Linked DNA regions of Homo sapiens. The protein of the gene in region 3 purifies or fractionates together with the protein of the main gene of each other region. This does not show direct contact. Each region holds a gene or a part of one and is shown on either strand. Other genes may lie near its edges. The genes, in order: MFN2, VDAC2, BAK1 and MFN1.

Region 1 (7,203 bases), on a different chromosome or scaffold from region 3:
CACAGAACTCGACTTGCACCCAATATCCCATGTAAAGAAGGTTCAATAGTAGAATCAGTTTGTAAAACACCATATGCTAGGCCAGGCGCGGTGGCTCACGCCTGTAATCCCAGCACTCTGGGAGGCCGAGGTGGGTAGATCACAAGGTCAGGAGTTCGAGACCATCCTGGCTAACACGGTGAAACCCCATCTCTACTAAAACTACAAAAAATTAGCCAGGCATGGCAGCATGCACCTGTAGTACAGCTACTCGGGAGGCTGAGGCAGGAGGATAGTGTGAACCTGGGAGGCAGAGCTTGCAGTGAGCCAAGATCACGCCACTGCAAGATCGCGCCACTGCACTCCAGCCTGGGTGACAGAGCAAGACTCTGTCTCAAAAAAAACAAAAAACAAACAAACAAACAAAAAACACCATATGCTACCATTTTCCTCAGTGGAGCACGTGAGCACAGCAAAAGAGTTTGGGAAGGAAGCCTTGTTGTAAAGACACTAGTTTAACTGTGTTGAATTCAGCATTTCACAAATATAATCAATGAAAAAACCCTTCTGTGTAATAGCTTTTAAAATCCCGAGGATCACACTTTAGGGAAAAGCCCACTCTTTCTGGTACTCTCCTGCCCCTACCCCTAAAAAGTGCCAGGGCACAGTATTAATAAATATTAACCTAAGACCAGAAATGAACCCAGTTCTAAATGGAAACTGCTATTAGCCCTCCAAGGTGGTCAACAGCTTTGCCTCAACCTAGGCTATTCGTTGAGGAGTATTAGGTATCTTGGGTGTAGAGACAGCAGTAGCAAAATTCACTGCAAGGTGTGTTTGGATCCCAAGCACAGTCCCTGAATCCACACCACCTCCTTACCCAGTGTTATGTACAGCAACTCCTAGCAGGGAAAATAAAATGGATCCACGGATCGTCTGCTGGCACAACTGGAAAAGAGGAGAAGCTGAGAAATCGAAACAAAAAGAGTATACAGGGTAAAGGGGACAGAGCAGAGTCTTAAAAGAGCAGTGACAAGGAGCCAACCTGTGCTGGGCCGAGATGGGGAAGAGCCAGCACAGCAGAGACCAAATGAGGGAGACAGAGACTAACTCTTCAGGGAGCCCAAGAGATCCCAGCCACTTCTGAACTGTCAACTTTTAAACAGGCTCTCTAAGCAACCAGCGAAATCCTTCACGGAAGTAAAAGATACGGTAGTTTTTCAACACAAGTTAGAAAGCTGTGGCTCTATACAAAGAGGATGCCATTCAAGAGACTTGCCACCAGAGGTCCAGGAGAGCACACCCCTGTCCACTCAGCTCAAATCCAGGGTGCCAGAAGTCACAGCTACTACTTACTTTTTTGGATGGTGAGAGATCTTCACAGGGTAGGCATCATGGACATGGCTGAAGTCCAAAAGACAAAAAGATTCTGAGTTCTCTTCTGTCCTGTCTCAGGTTGAGGTTGGCTATTGATTGACTGTGTTGACTCCACCAGTCCTGACTTATTAGAAAAGAAAAGGGAGATGGATCCGGTGTCCAAAAAAAAAAAACACTGGTGTACAAAACATGTCTAATCAGGTTTCAAGCCAAACAAACTCATCCCTGAGGGAAGCTTACTCATTGAGGTATTGGGGAGTTGCGCTGGCATGTGAGGAAGTGCCCTGGGGAAAAAAACGCAGAGGTGTGGGACCAATCCTGACTGTGCACACGTATTCCGCCATGTGCGGGTTTGAGGCACCACGGAGGTCCCTGCAGGAGCCCTGGGAAAGGTACATCCAGAGAGGGGAGAAGAGGACAGAGCAAAACTAGGAACAAAACTGGGCTTGAGGACTGTGGAACAGCTGACTATTGAGGAACAGAAGAACTGACTGAAAGCCAATGTGTTCAGCTACTGTAAAGTATCTCACTTAATTCTCTATTCTGTGGGACAGAGGGCTGGAATACTTGAAGATTTGTCTAAGCTGGGATCTGAAATATTAGCTCCCTTTGACTCCAAAGCTCCTGGAGTGCAGCAGCGCGATCTCGGCTCAACCTCCGCCTCCCGGGTTCAAGCGATTCTCCTGCCTCAGCCTCCTGAGTAGATGGGATTACAGGCGTGTGCCAGCAAGCCCGGCTAGTTTTTGGTTTTAGCACAGACGGGGTTTCACCATGTTGGCCAGGCTGGTCTCCAACTCCTGACCTCAGGTGATCCGCCCGCCTCAGCCTCCCAAAGTGCTGGGATTACAGGTGTGATCCACTGCGACCGGCCTCCTTCCTTTTTTAACTACATTGAGCTGCCTTCCTCCCCCAAGCCCCAAACCTTGGGACACCAGAGGCGGATAACCAGAGCCCTTTTCTGGGTAGAAAAGAGATAACCAGAGCCCTTTTCTGGGTAGAAGAGAGAGAGATGATTGAGAATTTAAAGAGGGCAATGAAGGATTACGAGAGGGGGTAACGGGCAGTTCTGCCTTCGTGCGTCTTAACAGCTATTTATTCAACATTTTCTGTGTGCCTTCTCTGTGTGTGTCAGGCGCCACGTTAGAAATGGATAAGAAACAGTCCTGCCCTCCAGGGCCTTACAGTCCGGTGAGAAGTCATATAAGTAAACAGGGCTGAACGAGAAGGCAGTAACTGCCCAAAGTGGGGATGGCAGGGCGCTCCCGCGGTGAACGTGGACACCTATCAGGTGCTGAGTAAATGCTGGCAAAATGAAGACAGGATGAAAAATAGAGAAGGGGCAGGGGTAGAACATGGCCGTGAAGGGTGGAAAGGCGGGGGCGATGAGAAGCTACAGGGGACCCCACCGACCAGTCCCAGGTCCCGTGGCCCGCCCCCTCCTCTCAGGGCCGGGGAGGGCCCGGCGGCGAGGCCGGAGAGTGGGGACCCCGCTTGACTGCATCCCAGACCCCCGTGGCCCCAGAATCCCGTCGGCCCACGCCGAGCTGCTCAGGACTCGCCGGGCCGGGCCGGGCCAGTCCCCGCCACCCCGGCTTGCTCGCCCTCTCACCTTCACCTTCCCGGCCTCGCGGCGGCCATCACACTCACTACGTCACCAGCGAGCGCCACCCCAGGGGGAGGCGGGAGGAGGGAAGTGGATAAGCGCGTCACCAGTCGCCTCAGATTGCCCCTCGACCCGGGTGAGCTGGTGGACCCTGAGCCCAGCCGGCTCGCCCCGCCTACTCCTTACGCCTCTGCTGCCCCGCGACTCGGCGCTTCGAGCGGCGTCTCAGCGCGCCACTCCTCCGCGCGCCACTCCTCCGCCGGCGCGTCCCAAGCGGACGACGCAGAGGCTCGGACTCCCACTGCATCATGGGGGCTGTAGTTCCGGTGGGCGTCGGCCGGAGCTGGGGGGGCGGGGCAAAGCGGGGCGGAGCCTCAAGCTGTCAAGGGGCGAAAAACCAAGGGCGTGGAGTAGAGGTTCCCGCTTTTTCGCCGGTTGTCCTAGAGCCTGACCCTGGGGCCTCTGCCAGCTCTGGAATCCAGATTTGCATTCTGTAATCTTAGAGGAGTGTTCTCTAGAGGGCCAGGCCTAGGGTGAAGTGACTCATCGGGCAGACAGAAGCGAGCATGGGCCTGCTGCCCTTCAGTCGCCTTTGAGGAAAGAAGAGCAGCAACAACGGCGAATCAATGCCAGTGACTGAACTGCGTCTCTAACATCCACCGCTGTATTTAACGTCCACAGCAGTCCCAGGAGAGGGAGAGGAGAGGTTACCCAAGCTCACATGGTTACCCAGATCACCGGGCCCCAGTGATGCGGCAGACACTACTAGGAAACCGCAGCAAACAGATCCCTTGCAGGACTTGGCCTCCGCAGAGAAGGCTCCAAGCCTGAGCGCGCCAGAACAGTAGGCACTAGCCACGTGTGGCTCTCGAGTCCTGAGCCAGTGCAAACGGAGATGCGCTATAAGACTTAGGACAAAAAAGGCTGTTAAACTATCTCAATTTTTAGGAAAAAAAAATATCGACCGGGCGCGGTGGCTCAAGCCTGTAATTCCAGCATTTTAGGAGGGCGAGGCGGGTGCATCGGGAGTTCAAGACCAGCCTGGCCAACATGGTGAAACCCCGTCTGTACTAAAAATACAAAAATTAGCCAGGCATGATAGTGCACTCGGGAGGAAGAGGCAGGAGAATCGCTTGAACACGGGCGGTGGAGGTTGCAGTGAGCCGAGATCATGCCACTGCACTCCAGCCTGGGCAACAGAGACTCCGTCTCAAAAAAGAAAAAAAAAATCTATCTTTGAGCCAGAGTCTCACTCTCACTCAAGCTGGAGTGCAGTGGTGCAATCACGGCTCACTGCAGCCTCGAACTCCTGGGCTCAAGTAATCCTCCCACCTCACTCAGCCTCCCAAGTAGCTGACCACAGATGCTGCAGCCATGCCTAGTATTTATCTTTTGTAGACATGGGGAAGCATTTCACTTTGTTACCCAGGCTGGTGTCCTGAACTCCTGGACTCCTGGAGTCAAGCAATCTTCTCCTGCCTCGGCTTCCCAAAATGCCGGGTTACAGGTACCTGCCACAGTGCAGGGCTATTAGCCCATTACTATTTATATGCTGACTACATGTTGAAGTGATAATATTTTGGGTCATTTGGGTTAAATACATTACTAAGATTAATTGCACCTGTTTCTTTTTAAAAATGTCGCTACTAGAAAATTTAAAATTACATAAGTAGCTTGCATTTGTGGGTCAAACTGTAATTCTGTGGGATGGTGCTGCTCTATAACCATGGTAGAACAACCTCAATTTATTGCCACAAACAACCTCAAGAGGCAAATCAGTACTCTGATATAGAAGTGACTGGTTTATCAGTCTCATGACGATGGCCAAAGGGAGCTGTCCTGCCCACACTGCCCTCTGAGTAGCCTAGTGCCCCGCGGGTCTGACTGTGGACTGTGGGGCCACACGCAGACTCAGCCTCAGGGTGTAGACAGGGCCCTGTCTGGGATGTAGCGTGCCTTGGGGCCTCAGCTGCTAGCTGCCTGGTACTGGGTCGGATTGTTTCCTCCTCCACAATCTCTGGACTCCCTAAGGAGAGGAACTCTAAATTCCACTTCCATTCTCTGAGGGCAGGAACTATAAATTCCATTTCCTCTTTTTTTTTTTTTTTCTTTTTTTTTGAGAAAGAGTCTCGCTCTCACTCTGTTGCCCAGACTGGAGCTCAGTGGCACCATCTTGGCTCACCGCAACCTCCGCCTCAGGCAATTCTCCCGCCTCAGTCTCCCCACTAGCTGGGATTACAGGCGTGCACCACCATGCCTGGCTAATTTTTGTATTTTTAGTAGAGATGGGGTTTCACCATGTTGGCCAGGCTGGTCTCAAACTCCTGACCTCAGGTGATCCACCCGCCTCAGCCTCCCAAAGTGCTGGGATTACAGGTGTGAGCCACCACGCCCAGCCTTCCTTTTCCTTTTTAGCAGAATCTTGCCCGTCAGGTGAAAGCCTGGATGTTCTCTCTCCTAAACATCTCCCCTGCCCACTCCCTCCTCTTCCCTAAATTTCCCTGCAAGCATTGGTCTAGGTCCTGGTCACTTGCCTGGACTGCTGTAGGAACCTCTGAATCCATTCCCAGGCATTTAGTCTTGTACTCTGCCCAGCAGCTGGGCTTTATCTCTGAAACACATCTGCATACTTGCCCAGCAAGTAGAGGAAATCTCAGTTTGGAGATATGTTTCAACCCATTAACATGTGTTTCTCATTGAGATGGCTGAATCCTCGTTTCAACCCTCGGGATGACAAAACTCTCCTAGCAGTGCTGAGTGTTATTGGGAATGGGTGCAGAGCACACTGATGTACAACTCCAGGAGACCTTTCTTTCTTACGTTTTTGTTTTTTTTTTTAAGACAAGAGTCTTGCTCTCTCACCCAGGCTGGAGTGCAGTGGCACAATCTCAACTCACTACAACCTCTGCCTCCCGGGTTCAAGCGATTCTCGTGCTGCAGCCTCCTGAGTAGTTGGGTTTACAGGCATGTGCCATAAAGCCCACCTTATTTTTGTATTTTTAATAGAGACAGGGTTTTGCCATGTTGGCCATGCTGGTTGAGAATTCCTGGCCTCAAGTGATCCTACCACCTCAGCCTCCCAAAGCGCTGGGATTACAGGCATGAGCCACTGCACCCGGTCCATATTACTTTTTGTTGTTGTTGTTGTTGACAGGTTATTGCTCTGTCACCCACGCTGGAGTGTAGTGGTGCAATCTTGGCTCACTGCAACCTCCACCTCCCAGGTTCAAGTGATTCTCCCAGCTCAGCCTCCCAAGTAGCTGGGATTACAGGCACCTGCCACCACACCTGGCTAATTTTTGTATTTTTTTGTAGAGATGGGGGTTTTGCCATGTTGGCCAGGCTGGTCTCAAACTCTTGACCACAAGTGATCCACCCGCCTCAGCCTCCCAAAGTACTGGGATTACAGATGTGAGCCACAGCATCCGGCCCCCCATGTTACCTATTTTGTTTGACTTTTTCATGGTGAAGATGAGTTTGTAATCAGAAAAAAGTTAACAGTTAAAAACAACCCTATGCCGGGCACAGTGGCTCACACCTGTAATGCCAGCACTTTGGGAGGCCGAGGCAGGTGGATCATCTGAGGTCAGGAGTTGGAGACCACCGTGGCCAACATGGTGAAACCTCATATCTACTAAAAATACAAAAACTAGCTGGGCGTGGTGGCGGGTGCCTGTAATCCCAGCTACTCGGGAAGCTGAGGCACGAGAATTGCTTGAACCCGGGAGGCAGAGGTTGCAGTGAGCCGAGATCATGCCATTGCACTCCAGCCTGGGCGACAGAGTGAGACTCCATCTCAAAAACAAAAACAAAAATAACCCTAACATACACAAACACACACACAGGCTTGTGTCGGCACAAACCAGCTCAAGAACGTTCAAAAAACAGATTAGACATGGTGGCTTTCAGAGAGAGGAACTGAGCAGCTGGGGGGAAAGGATGACAGAAAGATTAAGATTTGTGCTGTTTGAATTTACAATGAGTCAATTTTGAAAATGAAAAGACTAAAAAATCTTTTTTTTTTTTTAATTGAGATGGAGTCTTGCTCTGTCACCCAGACTGGAGTGCAGTGGCCCAATCTTGGCTCATTGCAACCTCCACCACCTGGGTTCAAGCGATTCTCCTGCCTCAGCCTCCCGAGTAGCTGGGATTACAGGCGCATGCCAACACAACCGGCTGATTTTTTCATATTATTAGTAGAGACAGGGTTTCGCCACGTTGCCCAGGCTGGTCTCAAACTCCTG
Region 2 (7,039 bases), on a different chromosome or scaffold from region 3:
ACATCACAACCAAGGTTTATACACTCCCTCTTGTAAGAAGACTTGATTTTACCACTTTTCTTTCTGGAAAAAGAACAAACTGATGTCATTGGGAAAAATTTACACACACTTCTGCACAAGAGAGCACAAAACAGACTTAAATAAACTGCAGTATGACCAGGGAGTAAAAATCAGCAATACAATAACAGGGAGTAAAAAAGTCAGCTCAATGAACTACAAGACAAGGACACATGAAGCAACTGGACAGCCATCTAGGAAAACTGCTTTGCAGAACAAACAATCAGTCACAAAAGCCTGTTAGAAACACATTAGTTGCCCAAGTTAGTGCAACAACAAAGAGGCAAATATTTGAAGGCAAGCCAATGATAGCAACCATAGTATTCTAAAAGCAGATATGGGCCAGGCATGGTGGCTCCCGCCTGTAATCTCAGCACTTTGGGAGGCTGAGGCGGGCGGATCACCTGAGGTCAGGAGTTTAAGATCAGCCTGGCCAGCATGGTGAAATCCCGTCTCTACTAAAAATACAAAAAAATTTAGCCAGGCACGGTGGCATATGCCTGTAATCCCAGCTACTCAGGAGGCTGAGGCAGGAGAATCGCTTCAACCCAGGAGGCAGAGGTTGCAGTGAGCCAAGATCGCACCATTGCACTCCAGCCTGGGTGACAGAGAATAAACAAACAGGCTGCGAGCGGTGGCTCACACCTGTAATCCCAGCACTTTGGGAGGCTGAGGTGGGCAGATCACGAGGTCAGGAGTTCAAGACCAGCCTGATCAACACGGTGAAACCCTGTCTCTACCAAAAATACAAAAATTAGGTGGGCGTGGTGGCACATGCCTGTGATCCCAGCTACTCAGGAGGCTGAGGCAGGAGAATCACTTAAACCCGGGAGGCAGAGGTTGCAGTGAGCCGAGATCGCGCCACTGCACTCCAGCCTGTGTGACAGAGTAAGACTCTGTCCCAAATGAAAATAAAATAAAATAAAATAAATACAATAAAATAAAATATGGAAAAAAAAAAAAAGGCTGGGCGTGGTGGCTCATGCCTGTAATCCCACCACTCTGGGAGGCCAAGGTGGGCAGATCACCTGAGGTCAGGAGTTCCAGGACAGCCTGGCCAACATGGCGAAACCCCGCCTCTACTAAAAATACAAAAATTAGCTGGGCGTGGTGGCACGCACCTGTAGTCCCAGCTACTCAGGGAGGCAGAGGCAGAAGAATCGCTTGAACCCAGGAAGCTGAGACTGCAGTGAGCCAAGATGATGCCACTGCACTCCAGCCTGGGTGACACAGCAAAGACTCCATCTCAAATAAATAAATAAAAGCAGATACAGAGATTTCACCACCACAAGGTAGCTTAATAAGCTATCAAACAGTAAATGTACACCTTTTCTAAATATACAAAAGAGAAATACTTTTAAATGTAATACAGATAAAAATGTCTGTGCTTACCCTGTGTTTGGTGAGAAGGTAGTATCAAATGTCAGTTTCAAACCTTGACAAATCTATTTTGAAAGAAAAGTAATTTGTTTTCTTTTTTTGAAATACAAAAATAAATTAATAAAATTAATACTAAAATTTTCAAAATGTTACCTGGTCTTCAATTGCGATTTCTGTTCCCAGAGTGTTATCAGTGTTCCACTTTTCTGTGAAAGTCAGACCATACTCACACCACTTGTATTTGGTCTCCAAGGTCCCAGTAACTTTACCAGTGTCTGTATTAGATGAACCGGACGTTGAAAATTCCTAACAAGACAATCAATAACTTCATGAACATTCTCATAAGCCTAGAATTCATCACTGCCTTACACACGCACACACACACAAACCCCCTGAAACATTTGGTAAATTCATGAATCCTTTTTCTAGCTTCCTAAACACTCGTATCCTTCTGCACTGTGCTACTCTCTAAGCATATATAAGAGTGACAAATAAGCCTTTGAGCAACTGACTGCCACTTTACATACACAGCTGACACTTCCAATCAATCACAAGTTAACCTGTAGTGAATTCTCAAGTGAACAAACTGTACACCTTTTTTTTTTTTTGAGACAGAGTCCCGCTCTATCGCCAGGCTGGAGTGCAGTGGCGTGATCTCGGCATACTGCAACCTCCGCCTTCCAGGTTCAAGTGATTCTCCTGCCTCAGCCTTCCAAGTAGCTGGGATTACAGGTGCCCGCCACCACACCCAGCTGATTTTTGTATTTTTAGTACAGATGGAGTTTCACCATGTTGGTCAGGCTGGTCTCCAACTCCTGACCTCAGGTGATCCACCCACCTCGGCCTCCCAAAGTGTTGGGATTACAAACGTAAGCCACCACCCCAGCTAACTGTACATCTTTTAAGGAAGGTTTTGCTAAGGTGATTTTATTTGGGATTCAAAAATCAATGGGGGACTGAGTGTGGTGGCTCATGCCTGTGATCCCAGCACTTAGATACCAGCCTGGGCAACATAGCAAGACCATGTCTCTACAAAAATTAAGAAACCAGCTCAGCGTGGTGGTGTGCGCCTGTAGTCCCAGCTACTCAGGAGGCAGAGGTGGGAGGACTGCTTGAGCCTGGGAGGTCCAGGCTGCAGTGAGCCATAATCCCACCACTGCACTCAGCATGGGTGACACAGTGAGACCCTGTCTAAAAATAATAATGTGCCAATCCCTGGTTGCACACGAACTGAAAAAGAAAAAATACGGAGGGCTTATCTGAATTTTTTTTTTTTTTTTGAGACAGCATCTTGCCTCTGTCACCCAAGCTGGAACACAATGATGTGATCACAGCTGACTGCAGCCTCAACCTCCCAGGCTCAAGTGATCCACGTACCTCAGCCTCCTGAGTAGCTGGGATCACAAGCATCACCACGCCAAGCCTAAGGAAGACAGCTGATGTGAAAATAATAAAGAGACTACAGCCAGAAATTGTGATATCTGTAGAGTGAGAAATATCAAAAATTGTATCAATAGGAGGAAAGGCCAGTCAACCTTCTCTCAGAAAATAGAACATTTGTATAACTATTGCTCTGCTGTTAGAGACAAATCCTTAGGTCTTACATCACTCTCCTAAATTAGACCCTTTCATTAACAGGAATTTCAAGTCAAAGCATAGCCCTCAATACCTATACTAAAAAGCACTGGACTGGCTGGGTGTGGTGGGTCACACCTGTAATCCCAGCACTTCAGGAGGCCAAGGCGGGCCGATCACTTGAGGTAGGGAGTTTGAGACCAGCCTAGCCAACATGGTGAAACCCCGTCTCTACTAAACATACAAAAATTAGCCGGGCATGGTGGTGCATCCCTGTAATCCCAGCTACTCAGGAGTCTGAGGCAGGAAAATCACTTGAACCTGAGAACCTGAGGTTGCAGTGAGCCAAGATGGCACCACTGCACTCTAGCTTGAGTGATGGAGTGAGTGAGACTCCATTTCCAATTAAACAAAAAAGCACTGGATCATGTTAGGAAACACTAGATATAAAAATTAGGAGTTCTGATGTCCAGTTCTTCGTGTCATTTACTAAATGCATCACACTGAGCAGGACACAACATTTTGCGGTTTTTTTTGGAGACAGGGTCTCACTCTGTCGCCCAGGTTGGAGTACAGTGCCACAGTCATAGCTCACTGCAGCCTCAAACTCCTGGGCTCAAGCGATCCTCCTATCTCAGCCTCCCAAGTAGCTGGGACTTCAGGTACCCACCAACAAGCACAGCTAATTTTTAAATTTTTTTGTAGAGACGGGGTCTCACTATGTTGCCCAGGTGAGTCTCAGAACTCCTGGGCTCAAGGGATCCTCCTGCCTTGGCCTCCCAAAGCGCTGGGATTACAGGAATGAGCCACTGTGACCAGCCTCACTTAACTTTTTTGGGTCTGTTTCTGCAACTATAATTACAAAGCCTACCTCCGAATGATTAAATTGAACTGACACTGTGAAAGTTTGTACGTTTTCATATGCTCCACAGAAAAGGAAAGCATTACTAAAACAATATATATGGAACAGGTTTTTCTAGCAGTTTGAATGGGGAATGTGTGAGTAGCTATTTTTAATCCTGAATGACATTAATGACTCTTGGGGCCCCACCTACGGCCATTCATCAGCCCACAGATCAAGAGCCAGCCTATATACACATGCCAAGGAAGCCTCAAGAAACAAAGCCAACACCACCCTGTGGGACCAGAGTTGGGCCAGATTACAGCTCATACCCTTTACCACCAGAAATTTTGGCTTCTACATTCTGGGGTGGCTTCAGTAGCTTTGCTGTTCAGGTAAGAAAACAGAGCCAGGTATTAATGGGACTTATCTGGGGCCAGAGACATACTATAGGATCAATACCATGGTTGTTGAGTTACATGTATTAAATGTGAATAAAAACATGCTATATCTAATCCAGCTCCTACATATCCTTCATGCTCTTAAACCTACTTCCATAAAACTTTCCCTAACCCTATACACAACAATCTATTCCTTTCCAACAAAGATTTGATTATCCAACGATCTAATATTTGATATTAATTACCTCAGTACTCTCAGTTTATTTTGTCTCTCCAACTAGAAAGTAAGCTTTTTAAACACAAGGACTGAATCTTTTTTAGAAGGCCTTTTGTGTTTCAACAAATACACTAGGGGCCTCAATAGACTAACAATGGGAACATTAAAAAACACTAAAAATCACTGCTCTGTAACCTGTTAACTTGGCCAAATAAGTCATCCAATCATAACTAAACACCTAAGCTTCCTTTCAGACCAAAAAAACCAAGCGACAGATATGATCAATGTAAATCCCCAGAAATCCAACAGGCCTAGGCTTTTAAACTACAGGGCTAGCGCTGTGGCTCACGCCTGTAATCCCAACACTTTGGGATCACTTGAGGTCAGGAGTTTAAGACCAGACTGGCCAACATGGCAAAACCCTGTTTCTACTAAAAATACAAAAATTAGCGGGGCATGGTGGCAAGCACCTGTAATCCCAGCTACTTGGGAGGCTGAGGCCGGAGAATCACTTGAACCTGGGAGGTGGAGGATGCAGTGAGCTGAGATCATGCCACTGCACTCCAGCCTGGGCGACAGAGCAAGACTGCGTCTCAGAGGAAAAAAAAAAAAACAAAACAAAAAAACTACAATACGATTAAATAAATATCAGTTACATGCACTACATCAAAAATGTCTATATAGGCCGGGCGCGGTGGCTCACGCCTGTAATCCCAGCACTTTGGGAGCCCGAGGTGGGCAGATCATGAGGTCAGGAGATTGAGACCATCCTGGCTAACATGGTGAAACCCCATCTCTACTAAAAATACAAAAAAATTAGCTGGGCGTGGTGGCCCGTGTCTGTAGTTTCAGCTACTCATGAGGCTGAGGCAGGAGAAAGGCATGAACCTGGGAGGTGGAGCTTGCAGTGAGCTGAGATCATGCCACTGCACTCCAGCCTGGGTGACAGTGCAAGACTCCGTCTCAAAAAAAAAAAAAGTCTCTCTCTCTCTATATATATACATACATACATATATCAAAATAACCTATAGTATTCTAATGTGCACACACACCCACCCCTAAAATAATCTCAAAACAAAAATTTTTTAAGTAAAAAAAATTTCACAAAGTTAAATTTTACTAGCTGGGCATGGTGGCTCACATCTGTAATCCCAGCACTTTGGGAGGCCAAGGCAAGTGGATCACTTGAGCTCAGGAGTTCAAGACTAGCCTGGGCAACATGGCAAAACGTCATCTCTAGAAAAACTACAAAAAATACTCAGGCATGATGGATACGGCCTGTACTCCCAGATGCTTGGGAGGCTGAGGTGGGAAGATTGCTTGAGCCCAAGAGGTCGAGGCTGCAGTGAGCTGAGATTGTGCCACTGCACTCACTGCACTCCAGCCTGGGCAACCGAGTGAGACCCTGTCTCGAAAAAAGTTAAATATTAGTTTATCCCCTTTGTAAACAGTTCATTGAACTATCAAGACACCCAAATACCAAAATATTAACCTCTTTAAAAATATTCTTGGCTGGGCATGGTGACTCACACCTGTAATCCCAGCACTCTGGGAGGCCAAGGTGGGTGGATCACCTGAGGTCAGGAGTTGGAGACCAGCCTGGCCAACATGGTGAAACCCCAGCTCTACTAAAAATACAAAAATCAGTCAGGCGTGGTGGCAGGCACCTGTAATTCCAGCTACTAGAGAGGCTGAGGCAAGAGAATCACCTGAACTCAGGAGGCGGAGGTTGCAGTGAGCCACAATCACACCATTGCACTCCAGTCTAAGTGACACAGTGAGACTCCGTCTCAAAAAAAAAAAATTCAGATCAGGACTCCCTAAACTCATAAAATACATGTGGAAATCTTCTCCAGGGAGAACTGCTAGAAAATGGACATTATATAAATGATTAGTACACTCAAATTAATGAGTTCCTGATATTTTTATGCCCATAACTCTGACGAGCATTGTTGACAAAGGGTTACAAAAAAGTCTAATAATGGGTTCCCTGCCTTCAAATGTGTAATCTTACGAGTAAAGAGTACCACCTGACTGGTCTTTCCTAAGTTCCTTGTGCATACATAATATGACGAAAGACCACATGAAAATCAGAAATCACATTCAAGGCCAAAATAAATCAGGTTACACGCAAATCTCTTAAAACAAAGTTAACTTCTGCCTCTTCTTTAAGACAAAACAGGTAGACATCTTTCAGTTATGACCATTTTACAAGTTGAAAAATTATAAAGGTTCAATAGAACTTATTCAACAGTAACACTCACCACGCCACTGCAAGACTTTGTTTTCACATCCAGTTTCACCAACCCAAAACCTTCAACAAATAGACAGCAAAAGAAACAAAATGATTCCTTTGTATGAAAGATGCATAGCAATTGTTGACTATACATAAAAAACAAAAAGATTCCACATATTCAGAGGTGGATAAAAATGTGTTAATATACAATATTTAAATGAAATTGTTACAAATTCGTCTTTTGTAAACTGGCTTATAAAGGGCAGAATTATCCCTATGCTGCTTTGTCTAGTTTTTGGTAGTTGGTACACAAAAGAATGCTTTCAAATTAT
Region 3 (5,225 bases):
AGAGGGCTGGGTCACGGGCGAGGGAGGCAGGAATTAGAGTGGGGCCTGGCTGCTGTATCCCTCCAGCGGGAGAAATAAGGAAGTAAGCTGGCCAATCACCCAGTCAGGTCTGCTCAACAGGGAACGCAATTATTGTGACTTGGGGAGGAAGTAAGATGGCTGCCCTCCTTCCCTCTTCCCAGGGGATAGCCAGGGAAGCCCCAGCTCACACCTCACGGCGGGCTGTTCCCTGGACTTGGGAATCAGGTCCCAGGTCTGTCACTATCTCCCTGTGTGACTTTTCTGGGCCGCAGCTACAAATTCAGATTTTGTTTCCCACATTTCCCTGCACGCAAAGGGCTGCGGAGCTGAGATGTACTAATGTAGACTCAGGACCCCAAATGCCCGGGACTGTCCCGGTTCCCCGGCTTGTTCTGGCTGTATGACCTTGCACACGTTACTCAGACACCCTGTGCCATTTTCCCCCTGCCAGCTGGGGATTGCCTGCTCCCAGGGCTACTGTGAGGACTCAATGCAAGTGCCGGAACAACTCTCCACACAGCATAAGCTCTAGGGGCGGCTAAGGTGCTGAAGTAGGGATATTTCTTTTCTTTTTTTTTTTTTTGTTTTTTTTGTTGTTGTTGTTTTGTTTTGTTTTGTTTTTTGAGATGGAGTCTCGCTCTATTGCCCAGGCTGGAGTGCAGTGGCGTGATCTAGGCTCACTGCAAGCTCCAACTCCCGGGTTCACGCCATTCTCCTGCCTCAGCCTCCCGAGTAGCTGGGACTACAGGCGCCTCCCACCACGCCTGGCTAATTTTTTGTATTTTGTTTAGTAGAGACGGGGTTTCACCATGTTAGCCAGGATGGTCTCAATCTCCTGACCTCGTGATCCGCCCGCCTTGGCCTCCCAAAGTGCTGGGATTACAGGCATGAGCCACCACACCCGGCCATTTTTTTTTTTTTTTTGAGACAGAGTTTCGCTCTTGTTGCCTAGGCTGGAGTGCAGTGGCACGATCTCCGCTCACCGCAACCTCCGCCTCCCGGGGTCAAGTAATTCTCCTGCCTCAGCCTCTTCTTGAGTAGGTGGGATTACAGGCATGTGCCACCACACCCGGCTAATTTTGTATTTTTAGTAGAGACAGAGTTTCTCCATGTTGGTCAGGCTGGTCTTGAACTCCCGACCTCAGGTGATCTGCCCACCTCGGCCTCCCAAAGTGCTGGGATTATAGGCGTGAGCCACCGCACCTGGTTGGGATATTTCTTTCCATGGGTGAGGACAGCTATGGCCTTAGGAAGAGTGAATCCCCTATAAGGCATGGGGCTGCCAGGGTTCGGCCCTCTCTCCCTGACTCCCAGCTTTGATCCTCAGAGGAGCAGGTAGCCCAGGACACAGAGGAGGTTTTCCGCAGCTACGTTTTTTACCGCCATCAGCAGGAACAGGAGGCTGAAGGGGTGGCTGCCCCTGCCGACCCAGAGATGGTCACCTTACCTCTGCAACCTAGCAGGTGAGCTACAACCGCTGGGCCCACAAGGACATCTTCAGGGAGGCAGTAGCTCGCATGGGTCTCTGTGCAGGTCCTGGGAGCTGGGGAGGCCTCGGGGGTCTTGCCCTTCTCTCATGGTTGCTCCTCTTTTATGTTGGGCTCCCACCCCCATCCAGGACCTTGTATCCTTTTTAGCCCATGCCTGCCCCTTCTCCTGGAGCCCAGCACTCATGTCTTAGAACACTGTCAGGGACCTCCAAGAAGGGATGCACAGGGCCATGGACAGCTCAGGCAGAACCCCTCTGCCATGAGCCAGGGCCTGGTCCCGACTGCCTGGTTACTGGCTCACCTGCATGCCTCCTGCTCCTACAGCACCATGGGGCAGGTGGGACGGCAGCTCGCCATCATCGGGGACGACATCAACCGACGCTATGACTCAGAGTTCCAGACCATGTTGCAGCACCTGCAGCCCACGGCAGAGAATGCCTATGAGTACTTCACCAAGATTGCCACCAGGTACCCCAGCCACCTCCCTGCCAGCTCCAGTCACTCCTCTGTCATGTCACAACCATACCATACCCTGCCTGCATGATGCTCTCCTGGCATGGGGAGAAGCCTTCTGTCAGTGTCCAATGTCTGCTGTGAACTCACATGTGGTCTCGGCCCCCTATTTTTCTCTTTCGGGGTCCCAGACTTGTATTTTGGGCATTAGCTCACAGCTCTTTTGAGCTCTGACTCCAAGGTCTTGACTGGTTAGATCAGGACTCTAGAGGGGGCCTGAGGTGGGGACGTCCCCCACAGCTCCCCAGCCCAGCTGGGACATAGCTGTCCTTCATAGTTCCAATTTGAAACCACATATCACACTGAAGATGGTGAGGGTGCTAACCTCTGCCAGGTCCTAGAAATGGCTCCTACTTGCTATAATCTGGCATCCAAGTGGTTAAAGACACCGAATATTTGGGTGCAAATCCAAGCTTTGCCACTTACTGCCTTCGTGAAGCTTCCTAGCCCTTAGTCTCCTGGTTTGTAAAATAGGGAAAATATGCTTAGATTAGTGTCCACCTTACAAAGTGTTAGCCATTGCTACCACCAGAGTTAGGGAAGTCAGTGTCGGAGTAGATTTGAAACTGGAGGTGAAGGTAGGAGTAAGTGATAGATTTTAGAATTAGTGCTCAGAGCTGAAATATCCAGTCCGTGAACTTAGAGGCCAGCCTTCATACCACTGTGATGACAGGAACTACCCTAATCTTTTCTGTCCTTTTCTCTCTGCTGTCCCTCGGGCTGCCAGGCCAGCAGCAACACCCACAGGTAATCTCCCCGCTGACTCCATCCACTTGCTCTGCCCTCTGCCCTCTCTGTGCCCCGTTGCACCTGAGCGTACACCCCAGCAGTGGCATCCAGCTCATCTGCCCCTGAGCTTTCTCCTTTCGCAGAGACCCAGGTTGTTCCCAAATACAGGCCAGGTTGGGGCAGCCTCTGCGGCCTTAATTCACAGCTAAGCTATTTAGCTTCCAGCTGGGAGAGGGGTGGGAGAGGCCAGGCAGGCTGAAGGGCTTCCTGGGGGCTCTCCACCAATGCTATGGGATGCTCTGCCCACAGCCTGTTTGAGAGTGGCATCAATTGGGGCCGTGTGGTGGCTCTTCTGGGCTTCGGCTACCGTCTGGCCCTACACGTCTACCAGCATGGCCTGACTGGCTTCCTAGGCCAGGTGACCCGCTTCGTGGTCGACTTCATGCTGCATCACTGCATTGCCCGGTGGATTGCACAGAGGGGTGGCTGGGTGAGTATCCAAGGACTGCAATGTCCTCCCTGCTGTTGGGGCTGCCCCTCTCCCAGGCCCCACCCCTTCCTCGGGTTCCTATATCTTCTGCTAGCCTCTCTGTGACCACCTTGTTTCTCCCGGCAGGTGGCAGCCCTGAACTTGGGCAATGGTCCCATCCTGAACGTGCTGGTGGTTCTGGGTGTGGTTCTGTTGGGCCAGTTTGTGGTACGAAGATTCTTCAAATCATGACTCCCAAGGGTGCCCTTTGGGGTCCCGGTTCAGACCCCTGCCTGGACTTAAGCGAAGTCTTTGCCTTCTCTGTTCCCTTGCAGGGGTCCCCCCTCAAGAGTACAGAAGCTTTAGCAAGTGTGCACTCCAGCTTCGGAGGGCCCCTGCGTGGGGGCCAGTCAGGCTGCAGAGGCACCTCAACATTGCATGGTGCTAGTGGGCCCTCTCTCTGGGCCCAGGGGCTGTGGCCGTCTCCTCCCTCAGCTCTCTGGGACCTCCTTAGCCCTGTCTGCTAGGCGCTGGGGAGACTGATAACTTGGGGAGGCAAGAGACTGGGAGCCACTTCTCCCCAGAAAGTGTTTAACGGTTTTAGCTTTTTATAATACCCTTGTGAGAGCCCATTCCCACCATTCTACCTGAGGCCAGGACGTCTGGGGTGTGGGGATTGGTGGGTCTATGTTCCCCAGGATTCAGCTATTCTGGAAGATCAGCACCCTAAGAGATGGGACTAGGACCTGAGCCTGGTCCTGGCCGTCCCTAAGCATGTGTCCCAGGAGCAGGACCTACTAGGAGAGGGGGGCCAAGGTCCTGCTCAACTCTACCCCTGCTCCCATTCCTCCCTCCGGCCATACTGCCTTTGCAGTTGGACTCTCAGGGATTCTGGGCTTGGGGTGTGGGGTGGGGTGGAGTCGCAGACCAGAGCTGTCTGAACTCACGTGTCAGAAGCCTCCAAGCCTGCCTCCCAAGGTCCTCTCAGTTCTCTCCCTTCCTCTCTCCTTATAGACACTTGCTCCCAACCCATTCACTACAGGTGAAGGCTCTCACCCCCATCCCTGGGGGCCTTGGGTGAGTGGCCTGCTAAGGCTCCTCCTTGCCCAGACTACAGGGCTTAGGACTTGGTTTGTTATATCAGGGAAAAGGAGTAGGGAGTTCATCTGGAGGGTTCTAAGTGGGAGAAGGACTATCAACACCACTAGGAATCCCAGAGGTGGGATCCTCCCTCATGGCTCTGGCACAGTGTAATCCAGGGGTGTAGATGGGGGAACTGTGAATACTTGAACTCTGTTCCCCCACCCTCCATGCTCCTCACCTGTCTAGGTCTCCTCAGGGTGGGGGGTGACAGTGCCTTCTCTATTGGGCACAGCCTAGGGTCTTGGGGGTCAGGGGGGAGAAGTTCTTGATTCAGCCAAATGCAGGGAGGGGAGGCAGATGGAGCCCATAGGCCACCCCCTATCCTCTGAGTGTTTGGAAATAAACTGTGCAATCCCCTCACCCTGACTTAGTTTTTGTATTCTCTGCTACCCCTCTTTCCATCAGGCCAGACTGTGGGAACCTGGGCACGCCTGGCATACATCTGGCTTATTACTGAATAAAACCTCACACTAGGCCTCTAGAATCCCATAGAGGCCTGAGTATGGTTCTGCAGCCCCCACTCCGATGGAAGGCGTTCGCCCCTCCCCATGAACTTCTCTCATCTCGTTGGGTTTCATGCAGTTTCCACCCTTTAGGAAGTCTGGGAGGTCCTTTAGCTACAGAGCTGGTGGAGCAGCTGCACATATCTGAGGACCCCCACAGGCTACCTCTGACCTGGGCTGAATTCTTCTCCCACCCTGGGGCTACCACCCACGCTGGTCCAAAAGGCCCTTCTCCCCCACATTTAGCTCTGCCTGGGACACAATGTCCCAGCTCCCCCTTCCTGATGTCTCCACAGTCAGCACACACGCAGGGCTTTCATTCTAGTTTTATGCTGCTTGGGAGTCCCTATGGGTACC
Region 4 (7,039 bases), on a different chromosome or scaffold from region 3:
TCTGTTATGCAGTCATAGGAAAAAGGACACTTTTGATGGCTCTGAAATGCAAAGAACTCACACTCACTTCAGGGACTTGCTTTCCATTAAGTCAACCCAAGTCCCAGATATCACTGGGAGCCTTTTGGTTCACTGCAAAAGCATCCTATCTTTTCGGCATATGTTTTACCTCTTTCCTTTAGCATAAGAGGGAAAGAACTTTTCTTTATGTTATGGATATCATTCCCAACTCCCTTCCCAGGGAACCTTCTTGCCTTCATTAGCTCAACATTGGCTTCTATTGCCAATATACCACATCCTGCAAGGATGCCTAGGATCTCTCTTAAGATTTATCTTTCTGGACATTTCATGAAGCCTTGCAGTGATCCTCAAGAGTAGTTCTGAAACCATCCCCATAGGGTTAACAAGAATTACATGCCGGGGTCTGGACAGAAATATGGCTGTAGCTCATTAATAATCAGGCTGCACTTTGGCCCACTTCCTTGTTGCTAAATGTCATGTAACACCAGATACTGACCATTTGCACCCCCATTCTTTCTATAGACAGGAGCTCTGACATTAGAATCGTAACACTTTTAAGGATAGCTTAAGATGTTTTTTGGGCCCCCAGATCCAGCAACCAGTTTGAAGACCCCCCACAGAGGAATGATATGGATCAGCATGCGAATACAGCCTAGCCTTATTATCTCCCTGTCCCATGACTTCACTCTGCAAGTTGCAACCAATCAACGACCTCTACACTTTGGGTACTCCAAAAACCTTAAAAACCCTAACCTCAAATTCCTTGGGGAGATGGATTAAGGTTCCCCCCCATCTCCTCATTTGGTGACCCTACGATTAAACCTCTTCTCTGCTGCAACCTGGTGTCTCAGCATATCAACTTGCTGCATACATTGGGTGATGGACCTCCTATAGTTACAGTTTGGGTCCCTCCACCCCATATAAGAATCATCTGGGGAGCCCATTAATGATGCAGATTCCTCAAGTGAACTGTGAACCTAAAGAATCAAGACTCTGGGGATGCTCTTGGGATGATTCTTATGCATACTAAAGTGAGACACACTGTCACCCTGCCTTCCCAAAACGAACAAAAAAAACAACTGTGGAAATAGAAACTTTTTCTCCTCTACTATCAAAATCAACACAGAACACTTCATAACTAGATATATGGGGATTTTTCCACATGCATGAAGTGGTTCTCCAGCAAACACCAACTGGGTGTCCTATCATTCATTTCTACCTCTTCCCATCTTGGTTCAATGTCAGAATAGCTCACAGAACTCAGGGAAGCACTATACTTACATTTACTGGTTCATTATAAAGGATATTGTAAGTGACACAGATGAGATGCCTGAGCATTCATGCCCTCTCAGCATGCCACTCTCCCAGCGTAACCATGAGTTTAGTTACCTGGAAGTCCAATCATGTTCAAGAGTTTTCATAAAGCCTAATTTTCAGCCTGTCCTCCCCCACCCTTCCTGGAAATGGGTGGGTGGGAAGGAAAGTTCCAGTCCTCTAATCCCCTGATCACTTAACCTTTCAGGTGACTGGTCACCCTCTGAGGTTATCTAGGCACCCCACCCTAAACCACTCATTAGCATAAATTCAGTTGTCATTAAAAAGGGCTCATTATGAAAACAAGATACTCCAATCACTCAGGGAATTCCTATGGTTTTAGAAGCTCTGTGACAAGAATGGGACAAAGATCAAATATATTTCTTTTTATACCATACCAATGCTTTCTAATTTTCCTTTTACCTGGCTGGCATTTTTTTTTCTTGTTTGAGATGGAGTCTCCTTCTGTGGCCCAGGCTGGAGTGCAGTGGTGCGATGTAAGCTCACTGCAACCTGCACCTCCTGAGTTCAAGTGATTCTCCTGCCAAGGCCTCCCAAGTAGCTGGGATTACAGGAGTGCACCACCACACCCAGTTAATTTTTCTATTTTTGGTAGAGACAGGGATTCACCATGTTGGCCAGCCTGGTCTCAAACTCCTGACCTCAGGTGATCCACCTGCCTCGGCCTCCCAAAGTGCTGGGATTATAGGTGTGAGCCACCACGCCTGGCCCCTGGCTGGCATTTCCATGGATAGTCCCTCTTCCTCTCCCCAGTGCTGTCATTGTTTTTCATTACACACTCTCCCTGGATCATCTCATCAACTCCTGTGATCTCAATCACCAACATAAGCCAATAATTCCTAAATTTCCTAGAATTCTCCCTAGTCCAAGTCTCATATTTCCAACTGCCTTTTTGGTAACTATACTTGAATATATATAGTTGTATTAAACACACACAATTTCCTGCCTATACTACTGTCAGAGGTGTTTGAAGCAGAGCAACTCCATCTTGAACAGGGGCTGGTTAAAATGAGGATGAGACCTACTGGGCTGCATTCCCAGGAGATGAGGCATTTTAAGTCACAGAATGAGATAGGAGGTTGGCACAATATACAGGTCACAAAGACCTTGCTGATAAAAGAAGTGGCCAAATCCCACCAAAACCAAGATGGCGATGAAAGTGACCTCTGGTCGTCCTCACTGCTCATTGTAATATATATATTATATGTATATAATACATACAGTTTAGATGCCATGGCAACATCCAGAATGGATGCATATATGGGCTAAAAAGGGGAGGTACCAGCTGGGCACGGGGGCTCACACCTGTAATCCCAGCACTTTGGGAGGCCGAGGTGGGTGGATGGCCTGAGGTCAGGAGTTCGAGACCAGGCTGGCCAACATGGTGAAATCCCATCTCTACAAATAATACAAAAATTAGCTGGGTGTGGTGGTGCACTCCTGTAATCCCAGCTACTATAGGGAGGCTGAGGCAGGAGAATCGCTTGAAGCCGGGAGGCAGAGGTTGCAGTGAGCCAAGATCACGCCACTGCGCTCCAGCCTGGGTGACAAGAGTGAAATTCTGTCTCCCAAAAAAAGAAAAAGTGGGGGACAGGTACCAACCCTCAGTTCTGGGAATTGCCTACCCGTTACCTGGAAAACTCATGAATAATCCACCCTTTGTTTGGCATACAATCAAGAAATAACCATAAAAATACCAAAGCAGCAGTTCTCGGGACTGATCTGCCTATGCAGCAGCCATTCTTTATTCCTTTATTTTCTTAATAAACTTGCTTTCACTTTATGGACCCATCCGGAATTCCTTCTTGCGCAAGGTCCAAGAACCCTCTCTTGGGGTTAGGAGTGGGGCCCCTTTCTGGTAACATTATCACAACTGCCTCCTACCCCTGTTCTCATTCAATTCATTCTCCCCATTATATCTAAGGTTATAATTGTAACATCCAATCCTCTCAGGACTATTTTCCAAAATAAAAGAATGCAGAACGCCTTACCATGATATATTAATACAAGGTCTTTTACAATCTGACTTTTGCTTACAAAGTCTCTTCTTTTGCTATTGTTTCGTAACACCTTAAATTCAACTACTTGAGTTCTCCAAACACACTGTGGTCTCCCTACCCCTTTCTATTTATGGCTTTCTGCAAGAAATGAGCTTTTGGACCTTTTTCACATCCAAAGCTATACCTATTTCTCATTCTCAGTAGGACAGTTGAGTCATCACCTTCCCAGGAGGCTCTTCCTTCCTACTCCACCCTAATCTGAAGTAGGATCTTTTTAAATGGAGCTGTCTCATGCCAGACTCTGTGTAAGGCCCTGAGAATATGGTCAAATGGGAGAAGCAGAAAATAAAAACATAAAATAAGAGCTTTGTGAAAAGTGTTGAAAGACATTAAGAGGATGCTTTAACAGAAAATAACTGAGAAGGAATAATTTAGATAGGGTGGTCAGAGAAGGTGTCCAAGGTAGTAACATTTAGGATGAAATATGAAGAATGAGAAGGCACTAGACGTAGCTACAACAAGGAAAGGTGAGTTGTAGGCAAAGGGAATTGCAAGGGCAAAAGCCCTACGATGGGAAAATAGCTTAGAAGGCCTATGAAGTTATTTAGTAAATAAATGCCTCTGTTGGTACACAGCACAGATAGCTGAATAACCAGTTATGGAGCTAGTCATTTGTCTTTGCATATAAGCTGTGGCAGAGATCACCCTATCACTCTGGACTGTTACACCAATGTACGCCTCCTACTCTCCCTCTAGGAATGATGGAGTTGAAAATTTTGGAAGACGTACCTGATCACTGCCTTTTTCTCCCCGCCATAATCCAGATAATTGTCAAACTTAAGAAAGACACTAAAGAAAATCACCTCTAAATTAGCCAGGTACAGTGGCTCACGCCTGTAATCCCAGCACTTTGGGAGGCCGAGGTGAGTGGTTCACTTGAGGTCAGGAGTTTGAGACCAGCCTGGCCAACATGGTGAAACCCTATCTCTAATAAAAATATAAAAATTATGCTGGGGCCAGGCGCGGTGGCTCACGCCTGTAATCCCAGCACTTTGGGAGGTCGAGGTGGGCGGATTGCCTGGGCTCAGTAGTTCGAGACCAGCCTGGGCAACATGGTGAAACCCCATCTCTACTAAAATACAAAAAAAAAAAAAAAAAATTAGCCAGGTGTGGCAGCACACGCCTGTAGTCCCAGCTACTAGGGAGGCTGAGGCAGGAGAATTGCTTGAACCCGGGAGGCGGAGGTTGCAGTGAGCCGAGATGGTGCCACTGCACTCCAACCTGGCAACGGACTGAGACTCTGTCTCAAAAAAAAAAAAAAAAATTTAGGCTGGATGCGGTGGCTCACGCCTGTAATTCCAACACTTTGGGAGGCCAAGGCGGGTGGATCACCTGAGGTCAGGAGTTCAAGACTAGCCTGGCCAATATGGTGAAACCCCACCTCTACTAAAAATACAAAAATTAGCCAGGTATGGTGGCACACGCCTATAATTCCAGCTACTAGGGAGGCTGAGGCAGGAGAATCGCTTGAACCCGGGATGTGGAGGTTGCAGCGAGCCGAGATTGTGCCACTGCACTCCAGCGTGGGAGACAGAGTGAGACTCCCTCTCAGGGGGAAAAAAAAAATGCTGAGTTTACTTGGGAATCAAAAATAAAGATTATAATCTGGAATGCATGGAATGGCATACCAGTGCATTCAGTGAGGGTAAGAGGGGTTTCTATTAGCAAAAAGAGATTTACATAAGCTGCCTAGAAACAAGAGTTATTTGGTTCCAGAGGTTCAACGCCAGTTATTGTCAGTTCATTGGCGGAGATGCCATTACTGGGCAAGAACTCTCCTGAAAACATTTTATCTGAATTAAGGCAGTCCTAAAGTATGTTTATTGATAAGTCTTATCAAAGCAGGAGATTTGAAAGAATTTCTAGAAAGTCCTTGGAAATAGTTATCTCAGACAAGAGCCTCTTTCCTTCTAGGCCTGTCTAGGTATGACAAAAGTGATTTCATCCTAGCTTCTGAAACTTTCACATAATCAAGTAAACTTAAAAGAGTAAAACACAAAGTATGCTTATCATTTATCTATATTTCCATTCTTAAAACTGTCTACAAGCCAATTCTTAGAGATGAGAATCATTAAAAGGTAAAAATATGATTGACTTTCATAAAGCTTCATTTTATACCAGGAGGTAAAATGCACAAATTCTTTCACATGCTAACAGCTTTAACATTCAACACAGGCAGAAACTTGCGGGGCTGGGGGAGGATGGGAGAAATATTACTTGTTGAAACATCAGACACAAAGCTGATTCCTGGAAACTAATCTTAGAAGTAATAATAAATAATTACCTGCCAAAAAATGCCACCTTCATGTGTCTCCGAGATAGCACCTCACCAATGATGGAAAGCTTGTCTTTATATCCTTGCATTTCTACCAGATCATCTTCAGTGGCTATTCGATCAAGTTCCGGATTCTTATATGTTGCTGCAAAATTGAAATGGCATTAGAAAAGTGATATAAATGAATATTAAGTTAGTTATATAATGGAATACCTAAGATTGTATGTATTTTTGCTTTATGTTAACATGCCACCCACAGCATCTCAATGTTTGGTAAAAGGTGCATACTCCGTGGCAATGGGTCACAAGAATCCCGCCCAAAAGAATTTCAAGAATATTAAAAGTTGCAAGGGCACAGTCAAAAGTGGACTTCTAGGTCTCAAACATACAAGCTACCCTTGAGACAAGAATACATTTCTAAAGAGAGAAACTAGAACCTAACACTGACCTATTATTGTTCCAACCTGACTGAATGGATCTTCAGATCTTGAGCTCAGAAGGGGGAGCCACATACTGAGAGAAAAAAGTGAGGTTTGAATAGGAGCCCCTCAGAAATTAAGATACAGTGCAAGGTCTCCAAGCTAGGAAAGACCTTGCTACTTTACCACGTTCTATCTGCTTCCCCCAGGGATGAGGTGAAACAGCTCACTTAACACAAAGACAGAGAAGAAAGAGAATTACAGGTTGTATCCTATCTACAGCCATACCACCCTGAATGCACTCGATCTCATCAGATTGTATCCCACTTTCACTCTTATCAGGTTTAGGGTTTAACCGCACATCCCAGCCCTCACCTCTCCTCCATGGCTGGAGGTAGTTGAAAAAGCCTGGGTTTGAAAAATAGAAAAATCTTTCAGTTTTTTTTATAACTCAGGAATAGGAGATAACCTGATGTTTACATTCTTATCACCTCTTTTTGAAGGTAAAGACATGAAGATTCATGTGGGCGTGGGGGCTCACGCCTATAATCCTAGCACTTTGGGAGGCCGAAGTGGGCAGATCCCTTGAGGTCAGGAGTTCATGACCAGCCTGAACAATATGGTAAAACACCATCTCTACTAAAAGTACAAAAATTAGCTGGAAATCACTTGAATCCGGAGGCAGAGTTTGCAGTGAGCCGAGATGGTGCCACTGCACTCCAACCTGGGTGACAGAGTGAGACATCGTCTCAAAAAAACAAAAACAAAAACAAAAAGATTCATCTGGCTATCTGAATGACCCTAATTAGAGACAAACACTGCCACTTAAAACTTCTCCAGTGCACATCCAATTAAGCTTCTCATATCTCACCATACTTTTCTAACGCATTAATAAAATATGTGCAATTTGGTGAATAACGGACAGACTG

The links.
Region 1: the proteins of BAK1 (region 3) and MFN2 purify together in Homo sapiens (co-immunoprecipitation; 2 studies listed by IntAct). This does not show direct contact.
Region 2: the proteins of BAK1 (region 3) and VDAC2 purify together in Homo sapiens (affinity purification with western blotting; 2 studies listed by BioGRID and IntAct, with this or other methods). This does not show direct contact.
Region 4: the proteins of BAK1 (region 3) and MFN1 purify together in Homo sapiens (co-immunoprecipitation; 2 studies listed by IntAct). This does not show direct contact.

What each region holds. Positions count from the first base shown.
Region 1 is NC_000001.11:11,976,247-11,983,449, reverse strand, and holds the start of MFN2 (mitofusin-2), read right to left. Parts: upstream 3,007-7,203; 5' UTR 2,966-3,006; intron 1,641-2,965; exon of another isoform or gene 1,597-1,640; intron 1,481-1,596; 5' UTR 1,336-1,480; intron 928-1,335; exon of another isoform or gene 860-927; intron 1-859. UniProt on the Homo sapiens protein: Mitochondrial outer membrane GTPase that mediates mitochondrial clustering and fusion. Mitochondria are highly dynamic organelles, and their morphology is determined by the equilibrium between mitochondrial fusion and fission events.
Region 2 is NC_000010.11:75,213,767-75,220,805, reverse strand, and holds part of VDAC2 (non-selective voltage-gated ion channel VDAC2), read right to left. Parts: intron 6,786-7,039; coding exon 6,736-6,785; intron 2,919-6,735; exon of another isoform or gene 2,848-2,918; coding exon of another isoform or gene 2,815-2,847; intron 1,744-2,814; coding exon 1,591-1,743; intron 1,503-1,590; coding exon 1,450-1,502; intron 64-1,449; coding exon 1-63. UniProt on the Homo sapiens protein: Non-selective voltage-gated ion channel that mediates the transport of anions and cations through the mitochondrion outer membrane and plasma membrane.
Region 3 is NC_000006.12:33,572,052-33,577,276, reverse strand, and holds the end of BAK1 (bcl-2 homologous antagonist/killer), read left to right. Parts: intron 1-1,348; coding exon 1,349-1,484; intron 1,485-1,835; coding exon 1,836-1,979; intron 1,980-2,751; coding exon of another isoform or gene 2,752-2,962; exon of another isoform or gene 2,963-3,056; intron 3,057-3,062; coding exon 3,063-3,243; intron 3,244-3,369; coding exon 3,370-3,474; 3' UTR 3,475-4,725; downstream 4,726-5,225. UniProt on the Homo sapiens protein: Plays a role in the mitochondrial apoptotic process. Upon arrival of cell death signals, promotes mitochondrial outer membrane (MOM) permeabilization by oligomerizing to form pores within the MOM.
Region 4 is NC_000003.12:179,350,697-179,357,735, reverse strand, and holds part of MFN1 (mitofusin-1), read right to left. Parts: intron 5,837-7,039; coding exon 5,701-5,836; intron 1-5,700. UniProt on the Homo sapiens protein: Mitochondrial outer membrane GTPase that mediates mitochondrial clustering and fusion. Membrane clustering requires GTPase activity. It may involve a major rearrangement of the coiled coil domains.